Linked DNA regions of Homo sapiens: region 2 is linked to region 1. A link means that fine-mapping ties the variant in region 1 to the expression of a gene that starts in the linked region. Tissue or cell type: nucleus accumbens. Region 1 holds a variant in brackets; the other region holds the start of a gene. All regions are shown on one strand. Distances are between the middles of the regions.

Region 1 (8,104 bases):
CTAGATGATAGATAACTAGATATAATAGATAAGATAGATGATTAGATAGACAGATAATTAGATATGATTGATAGATACATTAGATAGATGATAGATTAGATAGATAGATGATAGGTAACTAGGTAGCTAGATAAAGCTAGCTAGATAGATAGATAGATATACAGATACACAGATAGATACATAGATACCTAGATAGGTGATAGAGTTGCAAGATAGAAAAATTAGATAAGTAGGTGGATAGATAGATAGATAACTAGATAGAATAGATTAAATAGATAATAGTAGGTGAATAGACAGATACATACAGATGATAGATGATAGATGATAGATAACTGGTTATGATTGATAGATACATTAGATAGATGATAGATTTGGTAACTAGATGATAGGTAAGTCGGTAGATAGATAAGTGATAATTAGATATGATAGGATGGATAGATTAGACAGACAGCAGGTAAGCAGGTGGATAGACAGATAAAGATAGATACATAGATGCCTAGATAAGTGATAGATTAACAAGATAGAAAAATTAGACAGACAGATAGTTAATTACATATGATAGGATAGATAGATTGGATAGGTGATAGGCAAGTAGGTAGATAGATAAATCATAATTAGATAGGACGGATAGATTGGATAGATGATAGGTAAGTAGGTACAGAGACAGATAAAGATAGATAGGTAGATAGATAATAGATACCTAGACAGATGGTAGATAGATTAGCGAGATAGATAAATTAGATAGGTAATTCTCTATATATAGATATGTAGAAATGCCAATGCAAACATAGCGAACCAAGTAGGGGAAGCGTCTGGATGGGAGACCCTCTGTTGGTGCAGAGGACCAGGCGTGTGAAGCATCTCAGACTTGGCTCTGTAATGTGACCACAGATCATTGCACACCTAGGAAAAATTCTCAGACTCAAAGCACACTAACAAAGATAGCGGGGGTCTTGGTGAAGCCCCTTTCTGGGGCCTCACTTCTATAGTTGCTCAACTTTTTTCCTTAATCACGTTTCTGCTACTTACTCCTTAAAGTCTCACGACTTGTGTTTCTTGAATCTAAAGTGCCAAGAAAAACAAAAAACGGGGGGGAACTGCATGGACTCTGTCGCCTAGCTTTAGTAACAGGTTGCTCTCTCTTCCTCAACGCTGTGAGCTTTGGACACAACCCTTGCTGTAATCCCAGGAGTCACACGGGAATGCATGCCCTTCACCAGTGGGAGGGAAATAATTGTACTACCTTGCAGGGTTGTTGTTAAGACTTTAAAACGCTATGATGTAGACTTGCATGGCAATATTGCTCAAGAACTAGTTTTTTTTGTTTTGTTTTGTTTTTGTTTTTTAATTGGTAGAAATTTTATCTCCTGAGAGGGATGCTTTTTTGAGTTGGAGTCTTGGTCAGTTGAGTGTATGATGCAGTGATGCGATCTCGGCTCACTGCAACCTCCGCCTCCCAGGTTCAAGCAATTCTCTTCTCTCAGCCTCCTGAGTAGCTGGGACTACAGGCGTGCGCCACCATGCCCAGCTTATTTTTTATATTTTCAGTAGAGACAGGGTTTCACCATGTTGGCCAGGCTGGTCTCGAACTCCAGACCTCAAGTGATCCACCTACTTCACTCTCCCAAAGTGCCAGGATTACAGGCGTGAGCCACCGTGCCCGGCCACTGGTCATTCTTTTCTACCCTGCTCTAACCCTGTTCTTATTAGGAATCCTCCCTGAATTCTCCCAGCTGATCCCTTGTTCTGTGTCTTGGGGAATCATGTCTCCTTCAGAGAGCCCCACCCCTCCCCACTCTAAACGCCTTCCATGCCCGTGTCACTGCTGTTCATTACCTGGCATCAACGAGCTCATTGAAGTGTGTTTGAAGTTGGCTGGGCGTGGTGGTCTGTACTCCCAGCTACCCTGGAGGCCGAGTGAGGAGGACCACTTGAGCCCAGGAATTCGAGTATGATCACACCACTGCACTCTAGCCTGGGCAACAATGGGAACCCATTGGCACATCTGGGATTGGCATCCTGAGCTCCCATCTGTGACCTCCCTCCTCTCCCCTCCTCTCCCCTCCATTGCCCTCACCCTCTCCCCATAATCTTCACATCCCGTCCTTTCACATCTCTCTCTCTCCTTTAAAAAAAGAAAAAGGAAATATGTTTGAAGTTAAGAGCTGAGATCATGTCTGTGTTAGCCAGGGTTTTCCAGAAAAACAGAACCAATAGAACATATAGATATAAGCTGGGTGTGGTGGCTCACGCCTGTAATCCCAGCACTTTGGGAGGCCGAGGCAGGCAGATTGCCTGAGGTCAGTAGTTCAAGACCAGCGTGGCCAACATGGCGAAACCCCGTCTCTACTAAAAATACAAAAATTAGCCGGGCGTGATGGTGGGCACCTGTAATCCCAGCTACTCAGGAGGCTAAGGCAGGAGAATTGCTTGAACCCGGGAGGCGGAGCTTGCAGTGAGCCAAGATTGCACTATTGCACTCCAGCCTGGACGATAAGAGTGAGACTTTGTCTCAAAAAAAAAAAAGAGAACATATACATGTATATACATATATGGAGAGAGAGATTGATTTTAATGGATTGGTTCACGTGATTGTGGGGAGCTGGCAAGTCTGAAATCTGCAGGGCAGGCAGGCAGGGGATCCAGGGGAGACTTGATATTGCAGCTTGAGTCTGGAGGCAGAATTCCTTCCACCTTGGGGGACCTCAGTCTTTTCTCTTAAAGTCTTAAAGTCTTCAACTGATTGGATGAGGCCCACCCCTATGACAGTGGGTCATCTGCTTTACTCAAAGTCTATTGGTCGAAATGTCCAGCTCCAAGGAAGTTCCAGCTCCAAGGTGGGAGATCCAGGCTTGGAAGCCAGGCCATCTGTCTGGCTTCTCTTAGCTTTTCTACTCACCCCATCAGTGGATTTCAGACAGTGATTACACAGACAGATGTGGTGGCTCACGCCTGTAATCCCAACTACTCAGGAGGCTGAGTCAGGAGAATTGTTTGAACCAGGGAGGTGGAGGTTGCAGTGAGCCAGGATCACACTCCAGCCTGGGTGACAGAACACGACTCCATCTCAAAAAAAAAAAAGTGTGTATATATATATATATATGTATATATATATATATATATATATATATATATACACATTTATATATACACACACATATATATACATTTATATATATATATACACACACACACACGTATATATATATATGGAGCACCTGGAACAGAGCTGGCTCACAATAAATGATCAATATCATTGCTATGCACCAAACATTCCCTGGGAATTTTTGGAATTTCCTATGCGCCAAGCACTGTTCCAGCCCTTTCTATAGGTACTGACCCACCATCCAATAAAGTAGCTACTGCTGCTATCCTCACTTTACAGATGGGGAAACAGAAGCTTGGAGAAGATTAAGGAAATTCCCCAAAGCAATAGGAAGTTCCAGCTCCGAGGTGGGAGATCCAGGCTTGGAAGCCAGGCCATCTGTCTGGCTTCTCTTAGCTTTTCGGCTCGCCCCTATCAGTGGATTTCAGGAGCCAGGCTGATTCCCTGACCTGCTCTTCCCCCTCCAGACACCAGAACCATCTTTGTCGCCATCTTCAGCTGCATCTCCATCCTTCTCCTCTTCCTCTCAGTCTTCATCATCTACAGATGCAGCCAGCACAGTGAGCTCAGAGAACGCAAAGGGAGAGAGGGGGAGTGAAGGATTTTCTCGGTAGGTAAATTCCTCCTGCATTTTTTGTAGGTTCATCATCTGAGGAATCCACCAAGAGGTAGATGCTTGGCATAGCTCATGCTCCACTTATTCCCATGTCATTCTCAAGGGAACCCATTGGCACATCCGGGATTGGCACCCTGAGCCCCCACCCCAGCCCATTCTGTGACCTTCCTCCTCTCCCTTCTTCTCCCTTCCTCTCCCCTCCATTGCCCTCACCCTCTCCCCGAAATCTTCACATCCCATCCTTTCACGTGTGTCTCTCTCTTTCAGAACCAGCCATTCCAAACTTCCGGAGCAGGAGGCTGCCGGTAAGGGACAGGGGAAGTTTAAGGGAATCACCGGATAGAAAGACTAAGTTCTGACTTCTGCAGCTGAGAACTGATTTTTTTTTTTCCTTTCTCACTCAGAGGCAGATTTATCCAATATGGAAAGGGTATCTCTCTCGGTGAGTCCTCCCGCTTAGGAGTCCCACAAGAGCTCCCTCACCACAATGGGCTGGTCGTGTGTGCCTCCTGGTTAAGCCCATACAGAAATGTATACTGTTTATCACGCATGTGGTCTTAGACAAGTCACGAAACTCCCCTAATGGGAACCAAAATCTCCATTTAAAAGGCTTATGCATGGGCCGGGCGCGGTGGCTCACGCCTGTAATCCCAGCACTTTGGGAGGCCGAGGCGGGCGGATCATGAGGTCAGGAGATCGAGACCATCCTGGTTAACATGGTGAAACCCCATCTCTACTAAAGATACAAAAAATTAGC[T/C]GGGCGTGGTAGTGGGCGCCTGTAATCCCAGCTACTCAGGAGGCTGAGCCAGGAGAATGGCTTGAACCCGGGAGGCGGAGGTTGCAGTGAGCCGAGATCACGCCACCGCACTCCAGCCTGGGCGACAGAGCCAGACTCTGTCCCAAAATAAATAAATAAATAAAAATTTAAAAAAAATGAAAAAAGGCTTACGCAGATCCATTGATGTCACAGGCATAAAGGGTTATAAAAACAGAAAAGAAAAAGAAATGCATCTGGTGTGACCGAGGACCTGGGTTTTAAATTAAATTTAATTGTAATTAACTTAAATGTCAATAGCCATGTGTGGCTAGTGGCTGCCATATTGAACACTCAGTTCTAATATTCATCTATTTTCTCCAAAGACGGCAGACCCCCAAGGAGTGACCTATGCTGAGCTAAGCACCAGCGCCCTGTCTGAGGCAGCTTCAGACACCACCCAGGAGCCCCCAGGATCTCATGAATATGCGGCACTGAAAGTGTAGCAAGAAGACAGCCCTGGCCACTAAAGGAGGGGGGATCGTGCTGGCCAAGGTTATCGGAAATCTGGAGATGCAGATACTGTGTTTCCTTGCTCTTCGTCCATATCAATAAAATTAAGTTTCTCGTCTTAAAAAGAAATCTGACTTATTTATGGATTATTCATGCCCAAGAACCCCACCATACTCTTTCTACCCCACATTTCCTCCTAGAACAATTCAAGGAAATAATAAATAATGATTGACCAGCTATCCAGGAAAGAATGTAAGAATTACTGAGCATCTCCAGGAAGCACAACAAGCAAAAAAGAAAACGGCCGGGCTCACGCCTGTCATCCCAGCACTTTGGGAGGCCGAGGTGGGTGGATCATCTGAGGTCAGAGTTCAAGACCAGCCTGACCAACATGGTGAAATCCCATCTCTACTAAAAATAAAAAATTAGTTGGACGTGGTGGCAGGCGCCTGTAATCCCCGCTACTTGGGAGACTGAGGCAGAAGAATCGCTTGAACCCAGGAGGCAGAGATTGCAGTGAGCTGAGATGGCGCCATTGAATTCCAGCCTGGGCAATGGAGTGAGACTCCATCTCAAAAAAAAAAAAAAAAAAAAACAAAAAACGCCCAGAGCTGCAAACTCCTAGACCAGAGGGCAGAAAACAAAAGGACCAGAGAGTAACACGTCCAGCTTTGTGGGCTGTAGGATCTCTGCTGAGACTACCCCACTCTGCTGTTGTACCATGAAAGCAGCCATCGCTGATATGTAAACAAGTAGGTGTGGCGGTGTTAGAATAAAACTTTATTTACAACTTCATGTTCTCACTCATGTAGGAGCTAAAAAAGTAGATCTCATGAAGGTAAAGAGAGAGTCAGTTATCAAAGGCTAGAAGGGGTGGGATAGTTAATGGGCACAAACACAGTTGGATAGAAGGAATAAGTTCAAGTGTTCAATAGCACAGAAGGGTGACTATAGTTAACAGCAATATATTGTATATTTCAAAATAGCTAGAAGAGAAGATTTGAAACATTCCCAACACAAACGATAAATGAGCCAGGTGCAGTGGCTCACTCCTGTAATCCCAACACTTTGAGAGGCCAAGATGGGTGGATCACCTGAGGTCAGGAGTTCAAGACCAGCCTGGCCAACAAGGTGAAACCCCATCTCCACTAAAAATACAAAAATTAGCTGGGTGTGGTGGCGCACACCTGTAATCCCAGCCACTTGGGAGGCTGAGGCAGAAGAATTGCTTGAACTCGGGAGGCAGAGGTTGCAGTGAGCCAAGATCACACCACTGTACTCCAGCCTGGGCGACAGAGAGAGACTCTGTCTCGAAAAGATAAAAAAAAAGATAAATGTTTGAGGTGGTGAATATCCTAAATACCCTAATTTGAGTATTATACATTCTGTGCATGTATCAAACTATCACATGTATGTCATAAATATGCATAAATATTATGTATCTATAGAAAGTTTTTTTTTTTTTGATGGAGTCTTGCTCTGTCGCCCAGGCGCCAGAGTGCAGTGGCGTGATCTCAGCTCGCTGCAACCTCTCCCCGCAGGTTCAAATGATTCTCCTGTCTCAGCCTCCTGAGTAGCTGGGATTACAAGCTTCTGCCATCACACCAGGCTAATTTTTTTGTATTTTTAGTAGAGATGGGGTTTCACCATGTTGGCCAGGCTGGTCTTGAGCTCCTGACCTCAAGTCATCCGCCTGCCTCGGCTTCCCATAGTGCTGGGATTACAGGCGTGAGCCACCGTGCCCAGCCCAGAAAGTTGTTTTAAAAACAAAAAATTTTATTTGCAAAAACAAGCTGTGGGCTCTAGCGTGCCAACCCTTGTGCTAGGCCAGTGCTTTTTAAAGTCTGCTTGGGCCATCACCCCAACCACTTCTGGCCCTGATGAGGGTCCAGGGCATGAGAGGGAAGGAGAGAGTGTCTTAGTCCATCCAGGCTGCTATCAACATACCAAAGACCTGGCAGCTTACAGACAACACATAGTTATTTCTCATGGTTCTGGAGGCTGGAAGTCCAAGACCAAAGCACTGGTAGATTCAGTGTCTGCTGAGGGCTTTTTTCCTGGTTCATAGCTGGCACCTTCTTGCTGTGTCCTTACATAGTGAAAGAGACTGGGCCGGGCGCAGTGGCTCACGCCTGTAATCTCAGGACTTTGGGAGACCGAGTGGGGGGCGGATCACCTGAGATCAGGAGTTCGAAACCAGCCTGACCAACACGGTGAAACCCCATCTCTACTAAAAATATAAAAATTAGCTGGGCGCAGTGGTGGGTGCCTGTCATCCCAGCTACTTGGGAGGCTGAGGCAGGAGAATTGCTTGCACCTGGGAGGCGGAGGTTGAAGTGAGCCGAAATCGTGCCACTGCACTCCAGCCTGAATGACAGAGCCAGACTCCATCTCAAAAAAAAAAAAAAAAAAAAGAGTGAAGGCTTAATAAGCAAAAGAAAGAGAAAAGAGAATAGTTCTCTCTTTTGCACAGAGAAGAGAGGGGTTCCCGAGTGGGACCCCTGGTTTTGTGGTGAAATGCATGGGGCTTTTATAGACAAGCTTGAGGAGGTGCTGTCTGATTTACATAGGGCCTGAGAGATTAGTCGGACCAGGTATGACGTTTGCATAGCCCCCAAAGAAGCTGGCCATCCCACCCTAATCTTTTATTACGTAGGTAGGGTCTCTGCCTGGCCGGGGCCATGTTGTCTGCTTTTTTACTGCACATGTGGGGACAAAGAAAAGGGAAGAGGGAACCTCCATGTTGAATATACCCGGCTCCCAGGCATCCGTTTTCTATTGGCACAGCTGATGCAAGATTTTAGCTTGTTTATCTATGCTTGCAGCTTGATGTTTCAGGCTGCTTTCTGTTAGAAAAGAAATTATTTGGGGGCTGCTCTTTATTAATAGGAAACCTTACTGAGGACTCTCTTACCCTCACTGTCTGCCTCAATAATTTCTTTTTAGCTCCCGTATTACAAATACCATCACCTTGGGGTTAGGTTCCAACAGCTGAATTTTGTCGGGACACAAACATTGAGTTTACAATACCCATGAAGCTGTCTCTGCTTGTATCTTGTCCTAACCAGAAGCTCCCAGGATTGCTGCATCTGAAGGAACAACCTTGATATATGGC
Region 2 (8,104 bases), 1.0 Mb before region 1:
ACAGGGGCTGGCCCCATATACATGTGCGATGGCAACTGACAGGGTCCCTGATAAACCGGAGTGCTCCAGAAACACCCCATTGCGTGGGACGGAGGATGTTAGGTGGCCCTCCTAGCGTTTGAGTTTGATAAATGAGCAAAGGAAGTGGTTTTTACTAGAAAGCCAGCTTTCCTTTTTTTTTTTTTTTTTTTTCCAGCCAGCAAACCCCAAACAGGAACCTATGGTTGGTGATGGATGTGCGTTCAGAAAGCAGGGAGGGAGGGGGAGTCAGAGGTGAGGGGGTCATCAGCCATAGCTGTCCGCTGCATCACCCCCTCGCTATCTCCAGGAAGCGTTCTGGGCTTTTCCTGTTGTGCAGTGTGGAAGTGCTCTATCTTCATTCATATCAAGGAAAGTCAAAGGACAAACTAAAGCCGGCAGCGTCTTTCTGGCTTCCTAGTCAGGCTGTTCGGTAGCGGAGTGTCACCCTGATTTCCAGCCCCGCAGCACACACAGTGAGAGCCTGCCTGGCGTGATTCAGAGGCAACGTATTTCCCAAGGTGGCTGTGAAGGAACCAGGGGGATAAACACAGCCCGTGAACCGCACGCCAGAGGACAGGTCCGGCTGCCTGCCGCGGAGTCGTCACGGCGTGTCGCGTCTGAGCGCTTCTCCAAAGCACCCAAGTGGCACCCGGGGTGACAGTTACATCATCTTGAGTACAGTTCTCTCAAGGAAAAAGCAAGCCCAGCATCTTCTGCCATGGCAACCCTGGCTTGGAGCCTCCATAAGAGAGAAGGCCCTAAGAATAATACCATTTTCTTGCTCTAAGTTGCTCTTACGGGAAAGAAGTGATAATATTCTTCCTAAACGCCATCATTCGTGCATCCTTCCCACCTATATGTGTCACCGGATCATTCTCCGCCTGGGCGGGGCCGTCCTGTGCACTGCAGAATGCTGAGCAGTGTCCTTGGCTTCGACCGACCACATGCCAGGAGCACCCCAATTTCTGCCATCGGGTGATTGACTTCACTGTTGCATTTGATTTTTTATGTATCTTTTAAAAGGACCCAATAGGGCCAGGCACAGTGGCTCACACTTGTAATCCCAGCACTTTGGGAGGCTGAGGTCGGTGGATTGCTTGAGCCCAGGAGGAGTTCAAGACCAGCCTGGGCAACATAGTGAAACCCCAACTCTACAAAAAACAAATGTTTTATTTTTATTTATTTTAGATGGAGTTTCACTCTTGTTGCCCAGGCTGGAGTGCAGTGGCGCAATCTCGGCTCACTGCAACTTCTGCCTCCCGGGTTCAAGCGATTCTCCTGCCTCAGCCTCCTGAGTATCTGGGATTACAGGCATGCGCCACCACACCCAGCTAATTTTGTATTTTTAGTAGAGATGGCGTTTCTCCATGTTGGTCAGGCTGGTCTCAAACTCCCGACCTCAGGTGATCTGCCTGCCTCGGCCTCCCAGAGTGTTGGGATTACAGGCGTGAGCCACCACGCCCAGCCGGGTTTATAGTTTTATAACCCTTATGACAAATCTCATAGTATTCTGCAGGGATAAGCATGAAACCACTCGTTCAATAAGTGCAAACAAAAACGCCAACAATTCTTAAGACATTTCTAATCTTATTTTACCAATAATTTTAAAGCCAGCTTATGTATTAAAGATTTATAACTACTTTTATTAACACGTTTAAAATTCTATGCAGCTTAAAGCATTTATAATGGATAAAACTGCCAATACTGAGTGCCTGACATAATATTTGAAAGGTGGCAGGCATTCAACCATGGTCACTGAATGAGAGATGTAGGGAAGATGATGGCAGGGAGGTTTTTAGATATCAACACCCTGATAGTTCTCATTTTAACCACCTGTAAGTGCACATACAAGTCAACGGCACTGGCCGGGCGCGGTGGCTCATGCCTGTATTCCCAGCACTTTGGGAGGCCAAATCACAAGGTCAGGAGATCGAGACCATCCTGGCTAACACGGTGAAACCCCGTCTCTACTAAAAATACAAAAAATCAACTAGGCATGGTGGCACGCACCTGTAGTCCCAGCTACTCAGGAGGCTGAGGCAGGAGAATCGCTTGAACCTGGGAGGCGGAGGTTGCGGTGAGCCAAGATCGCGCCACTGCACTCCAGCCTCGGCGACAGAGTGAGACTCCGTCTCAAAAAACCAAAAAACAAAAAACAGTCAATGGCATTAAATATAAATACATTTACAGTGTTGTGTAACCATCACCACTATGGATCCCCCAGACTTTGTCATCATCTTCAACCTAAGCGCTCCCTATTAAATAGTAACTCCCCACTTTTCCCAGGCCTTGGCAACCACCATTCTAATCCCTGTCTCTATGAATTTGACTCCTCTCGATACCTCAGATAAGCGGCACAATGCAGTATTTATCTGTCAAGTCCGGAATATTTCCTTTAGCATAATGTCTTCAAGGTCCATCACGTTGTAGCATGTATCTGAATTTATTCTTTTATAATATTTTTTATTTTTTGGAGACAGAATCTCGCTCTGTCACCCAGGCTGGAGTGCAATGGCGCGATCTCGGCTCACCGCAACTTCCGCGTCCCGGGTTCAAGCCATTCTCCTGTCTCAGCCTCCGGAGTAGCTGGGACTACAGGTGCCTGCCGCCATGCCCGGCTATTTTTTTTTTGTATTTTTTGGGGGTTTTACTGTGTTGCCCAGGCTGGTCTTGAACTGCTGAGCTCAGGCAATCTGCCTGCCTCAGCCTCCTAAAGTACTAGGATTACAGGCATGGGCCACCACGCCCGGCCTTATTTTTATTTTTGAGACAGTCTCACTCTGCCGCCCAGGCTGGAGTGCAGTGGTGCGATCTCGGCTTACCGCAATCTCTGCCTCCCAGGTTCAAGCGATTCTCATGCCTCCGTCTCCCAAGTAGCTGGGATTACAGGCACCTGCCACCATGCCCGGCTAATTTAACGCCCAGCTAATTTTTGTATTTTTAGTAGAGATGGGGTTTCACCATGTTAACCAGGCTGGTCTCGGACTCCTGACCTCAGGTGATCCGCCCGCCTCGGCCTCCCAAAGTGCTGGGATTACAGGCGTGAGCCACTGTGCCTGGCTGATTTTTATTCTTTTAGTTAAGGCTGGTTGATATTACCTTGTGTGTATATACCACATGTTGTTTATCCATTGTTGTTGATGGACATGTGGGTGGTTTCACCTTTTGGCTATTGTGAATAAAGCTGCTATGAACACTGTGTACAAATATGTTAGAGACCCTGTTTTCAGTTCTTTTAGGTGTGTACCCCGAAGTGGAATTGCTGGATTTTATGGCAATCCCACGTTTAACTTCTGGAGGAGCTGCTGGAACTGTTTTCCACAGCAGGGGCGCCATGTTACGTCCCTGCCAGCAATGCACGCGCAGTTCAATTTCTCTGCATACTCACCAATATCTGCTGTTTTCCATTAAAAAAAATTATAGCCGGTCGGGTGCAGTGGCTCATGCCTGTAATCCCAGCACTTTGGGAGACCGAGGCAGGTGGATCAACTGAGGTCAGGAGTTCAAGACCAGCCTGGCCAACACAGTGAAACCCCATCTCTACTAAAAATACAAAAATTAGCCTGGTGTGGTACATACCTATAATCCCAGCCACTTGGGAGGCTGAGGCAGGAGAATCGCTTGAACCTGGGAGGTGGAGGTTGTAGTGGGCCGAGATGGCGCCACTGCACTCCAACCTGGGCAAAAAGAACGAGACTTTGTCTCAAAAGAAAAAAAAAAAATACAGCCATTCCAGAAGGTGTGAAGTCATATCTCACTGTGGTTTTGATGCGTATTTTCCTAGTGACATCAGGGAGTTTATGGGAGCACGGGAACACAGACCAGGCCCCAGCAGGCGGACAAACGGTGCAACGCCAGGCTGGCCAGAGGAGATAAGCGCGGCTCCTTGGAGCTTGTGTGCAAGTCACTGTACTGAGGAGCCGGCTACGGCTCGATGAGTCTCAATTAGGAAAGGCCGGGGCTGGTGGAGGAAGGGAGGAGAGCATTCTTCATCCTCATCACATCCTGAGCCTGTGCCCCAGGCTCCCACCACTTCCCTCCCTGGCCACAGAGCTCAGGACAGGGCTGAGGAACCATGTCTCCATCCCCGACCGCCCTCTTCTGTCTTGGTGAGTCCTGAGGGTCAGATCTGGGAAATGCTGAAGGACAGGCATGGACTGCCAGACAAAGGATTTTTAAGAAATTTGCATTGGTGATGAATTTCAGGACAAAAAGGAACCTGTAAGAGCCCCTTCATTTGTTGGGTGGGGAAACGGGGGGCCAGCGAGCTGGCATTTTGCATGAGTTATTCCAGTGTATTCATGGCTGGGTCAGGAAATGAACAGAGTATCCTAGCATTGGTCACAACTTTGTTCTACTACACTGCAGTTGCCCCTTTTTTAAAAAATGTGGGCCAGGCACAGTGGCTCACGCCTGTAATCTCAACCTTGGGAGGCCGAGGTGGGTGGATCACCTGAGGTCAGGAGTTCAAGACCAGCCTGGTCAACATGGTGAAACCCCATCTCTACAAAAATTAGCCGGGCGTGATGGCGGGTGCTTGTAATCCCAGCTACGTGGGAGGCTGAGGTGGGAGAATTGCTTGAAACTGGGAGGCAGAAGTTGCAGTGAGCTGAGGTCAGGCATTGCACTCCAGCCTGGGCAACAGAGAGAGCCTCCATCTCAAAAAAAAAAAAAAAAAAAAAAAAAAAGGCTGAGTGCCATGGCTTACACACTTTGGGAGGCCGAGGCGGGTGGGCCATCTGAGGTCGGGAGTTTGAGACCAGCCTGACCAACATGGAGAAACCCCATCTCTACTAAAAATACAAAATTAGCCGGGTGTGGTGGCACATGCCTGTAATCCCAGCTACTCTGGAGGCTAAGGCAGGAGAATCGCTTGAACCTGGGAGGTGGAGGTTGCGGTGAGCCAAGATCACACCATTGCACTCTGGCCTGGGCAACAAGAGCGAAACTCCGTCTCAAAAAAAAAAAAAAAAAAATTGTGGAATTGATATCTGGACTAGGTATGGATTTAATTTGTCAGTATCCCCTACAGTAGTGGAGTAAATAGTCTCCTGATGGATGGGTGGCAGGTCGAATGCATTTCTGCTGCCTGATCTTCACTTGTGCTGGGCATGTCGAATGCATTATTTCCTGATTTCTTCAGAATTTGACCACTAAAGGGACAGCATCTCCAAAAGGCTAAGCAGGAAGAAGATGGTTGCATTACTGGAGATGAGAGGGTTAACTGTGAATATAAACAACCTCTCATTCATTATCCATCCATGGATGTATTCTTTTTTTCTTTTTGTTTGTTTTTTGAGATGGAGTCTCGCTCAGTCGGTCGCTCAGGCTGGAATGCAATGGCATGATCTCAGCTCACTGCAAACTCTGCCTCCCGGGTCCAAGTGATTCTCCTGCCTCAGCCTCCCGAATAGTTGGGATTACAGGCATCTGCCACCAGGTCTGGCTAATTATTGTATTTTTAGTAGGGGCGGGGTTTCACCATGTTGGCCAGGCTGGTCTCAAGCTCCTTACTTCAGGTTCCACCCGCCTCGGCCTCCCAAAGTGCTGGGATTACAGGCGTGAGCCACCGCACCCAGCCTGTTTTAACTTTTATTTATTTAATTTTATTTGAGATAGGGCCTCACTTCTGTCACCCAGGCAGGAGGGCAGTGGCATGATCATGGCTCACTGCAGCCTCAACCTCCCAGGCTCAACCAGTGCCTCCCCATCAGCCTCCTGAGTATCTGGAACTACAGTTGTACACCATCATGCCTGGCTTGTTTTTGTAATTTTTTTAGTTACGGGGGTCCGCTATGTTGCCCAGGCTGGTCTTGAACTCCTGGGCTCAAGCGATCCACCCACCTCGGCCTCCCAAAGTGTTGGGGTTACAGGTGTGGCCTGTACAGGTTACTGCATCTGGCTTGTTGCTTCAGTAGCTTTTGGGATACAAGTGGTTCTTGGTTACATGGATGAATTATATTCTGGTGAATTCTGAGATTTTAGTGCACCTGTCACCTGACTAGTGTACCTTGTACCTAATGTGTAGTTTTTCATCCCTGCCCCACTTCTGCCCTTCCCTTCTGAGTCTCTGAAGTCCATTACATCACTCTGCATGCCTTTGCATACCCACAGCTTAGCTCTCACTTATAAGTGAGAATATACAGATTTTTGTTTTCCACTCCTGTATTACTTTACTTAGAATAATGCCTTCCAGCTCCATCCAAGTTGCTGCAAAAGACTTTTTTTTTTTTTTTTTAAAGACGGAATCTCGCTCTCTCACCAAGGCTGGAGTGCAGTGGTGTGATCTCGGCTTACTGCAAACTCCACCTCCCGGGTTTAAGTGATTCTCCTGCCTCAGCCTCCCGAGTAGCTGGGACTACAGGCACCCGCCACCATGCCCGGCTAATTTTTGTATTTTTAGTAGAGATGGGGTTTCACCATGTTGGGCAGGATGGTCTTGATCTCTTGACCTCGTGATCCACCCACCTCGGCCTCCCAGAGTGCTGGCATTACAGATGTGAGCCACTGTGCCTGGCCAAAAGACATTATTTCACTCCTTTTAATGGCTGAGTAGTATTCCACGCTCATTTATTTTTATTTATTTTTATTTTTTGACATGGAGTCTCACTCTGTTGCCCAGACTGGAGCGCAGTGGCATGACGTTGGCTCACTGCAACCTCCACCTCCCAGGTTCAAGCGATTCTCCTGCCTCAGCCTCCCAAGTAGCTGGGATTACAGGCTCCTGCCACTACGCCCCGCTAATTTTTGTATTTTTAGTAGAGACAGGGTTTCACCATGTTGGTCAGGCTGCTCTCGAACTCCTGACTTCAGGTGATCCGCCCACCTTGGCCTCCCAAAATGGGATTACAGGTGTGAGCCAGCGCGCCCGGCCGGTGAGAACATTTAAAATCTACTATCGGTGATATGCAAGTGTACAATATGTTGTTATTAACTACAGTCACCATGATGTGCAGTAGATCTCCAAGACATACTCCTCTTGTCCAACTGAAACTGTCCTCCTCTGACCAACATCTCCCCAAACCTTACCCCACCGCCCCGGTAACCACCACTGTGCTCTCTACTCCTGTAAGTTCCCAAGTCCACACTCTTTACCACTAATTGGTGCTGCTAGGGTTTGAATCTACTCCTGCCAGCTGTAGGACTGTGGATAAGATACTGTCTCACTAGCCTGATGTATAAGAGGGGACTGATAATGGTGGGTAACCCGTACGATTATGGCGACTTGGAGTCCATGCACAGAAGGCGCTCAGCACGGCGCCTGGAAGACTCCCAGCCATGGTACAGCGTCGCATGGAAACCTACAAAGAGGCTGAGGTGGGCTGTGATGCGGCAGGAGGAGGGGGACAGAGAAGCGGCCGGAGCTTGCGTTGGGGTGCAGAGGGAGCCTGGGGTGGACAAAGGGTGGTGGCTATGGGGGCGCTGGTGACAAGTTGTCACTCTCTGAGCTCAGAGTCAAGACATGAGCTGGGTTCACCCACTTCTTGCTATGTGAGCTACACAAGGTTGCTTGGCCTCTGCCCAGTTTCCTTATGTTTACAGTGGGAATGACAACTATCCCGCCTTTGTGTGTGTGTGTGTGTGTGTGTGTGTGTAAGAATGAGGGTTACCAGATAAAACACTGGATGCCTGGTTAAATTGGAATTTCAGATAATTAGTACTTTTTTTTTCCTCCTCCTCTTCGTTTTCTGAGACAGGGTCTTGCTCTGTTGTCAGTCTGGAGTGCAATGGGGCAATATCATTTTTTTTTTTCCTCGAGATGGAGTCTTGCTCTGTTGCCCAGGCTGGAGTGTAGTGGCGTGATCTTGGCTCACTGCAACCTCCGCCTCCCGGGTTCAAGTGATTCTCCTGACTCAGCCTCCCCAGTAGCTAGGATTACAGGCACGTGCCACCATGCCCAGCTAATTTCTGGTATTTTTAGTAGAGATGGTGTTTCACCATGTTGACCAGGCTGGTCTTGAACTCCTGACCTTGTGATCCGCCCACCCTGGCCTCCCAAAGTGCTGGGATTATAGGCATGAGCCACCGTGCCCGGCCAGTGGTGCAATCTTACCTCACAGCAGACTTGACCTCCTGGGCTCAA

The links. PIP is the estimated chance that this variant, and not a neighbour inherited with it, causes the effect.
Region 2: it holds the start of GP6, and the variant in region 1 is fine-mapped to the expression of GP6 in nucleus accumbens (GTEx, PIP 0.99).

Annotation. Positions count from the first base shown.
Region 1 is chr19:54,037,839-54,045,942 of GRCh38, reverse strand. VSTM1 (V-set and transmembrane domain containing 1) reads left to right here. Exons shown (of 9, transcript NM_198481.4): 5 at 3,574-3,666; 6 at 3,747-3,774; 7 at 3,990-4,027; 8 at 4,127-4,164; 9 at 4,863-5,118. The coding sequence ends at 4,982. Among named protein-coding and RNA genes, the nearest start is that of VSTM1, 22 kb to the left of the region's middle. The variant T/C (reference allele first, on the strand shown) is at 4,480.
Region 2 is chr19:55,034,229-55,042,332 of GRCh38, reverse strand. It overlaps GP6 (glycoprotein VI platelet), which reads left to right and starts at 4,069. Exons shown (of 8, transcript NM_016363.5): 1 at 4,069-4,130. The coding sequence starts at 4,097. All of the region lies in intron 2 of GP6-AS1 (GP6 antisense RNA 1), which reads right to left. It also overlaps a transcript of RDH13 not described here.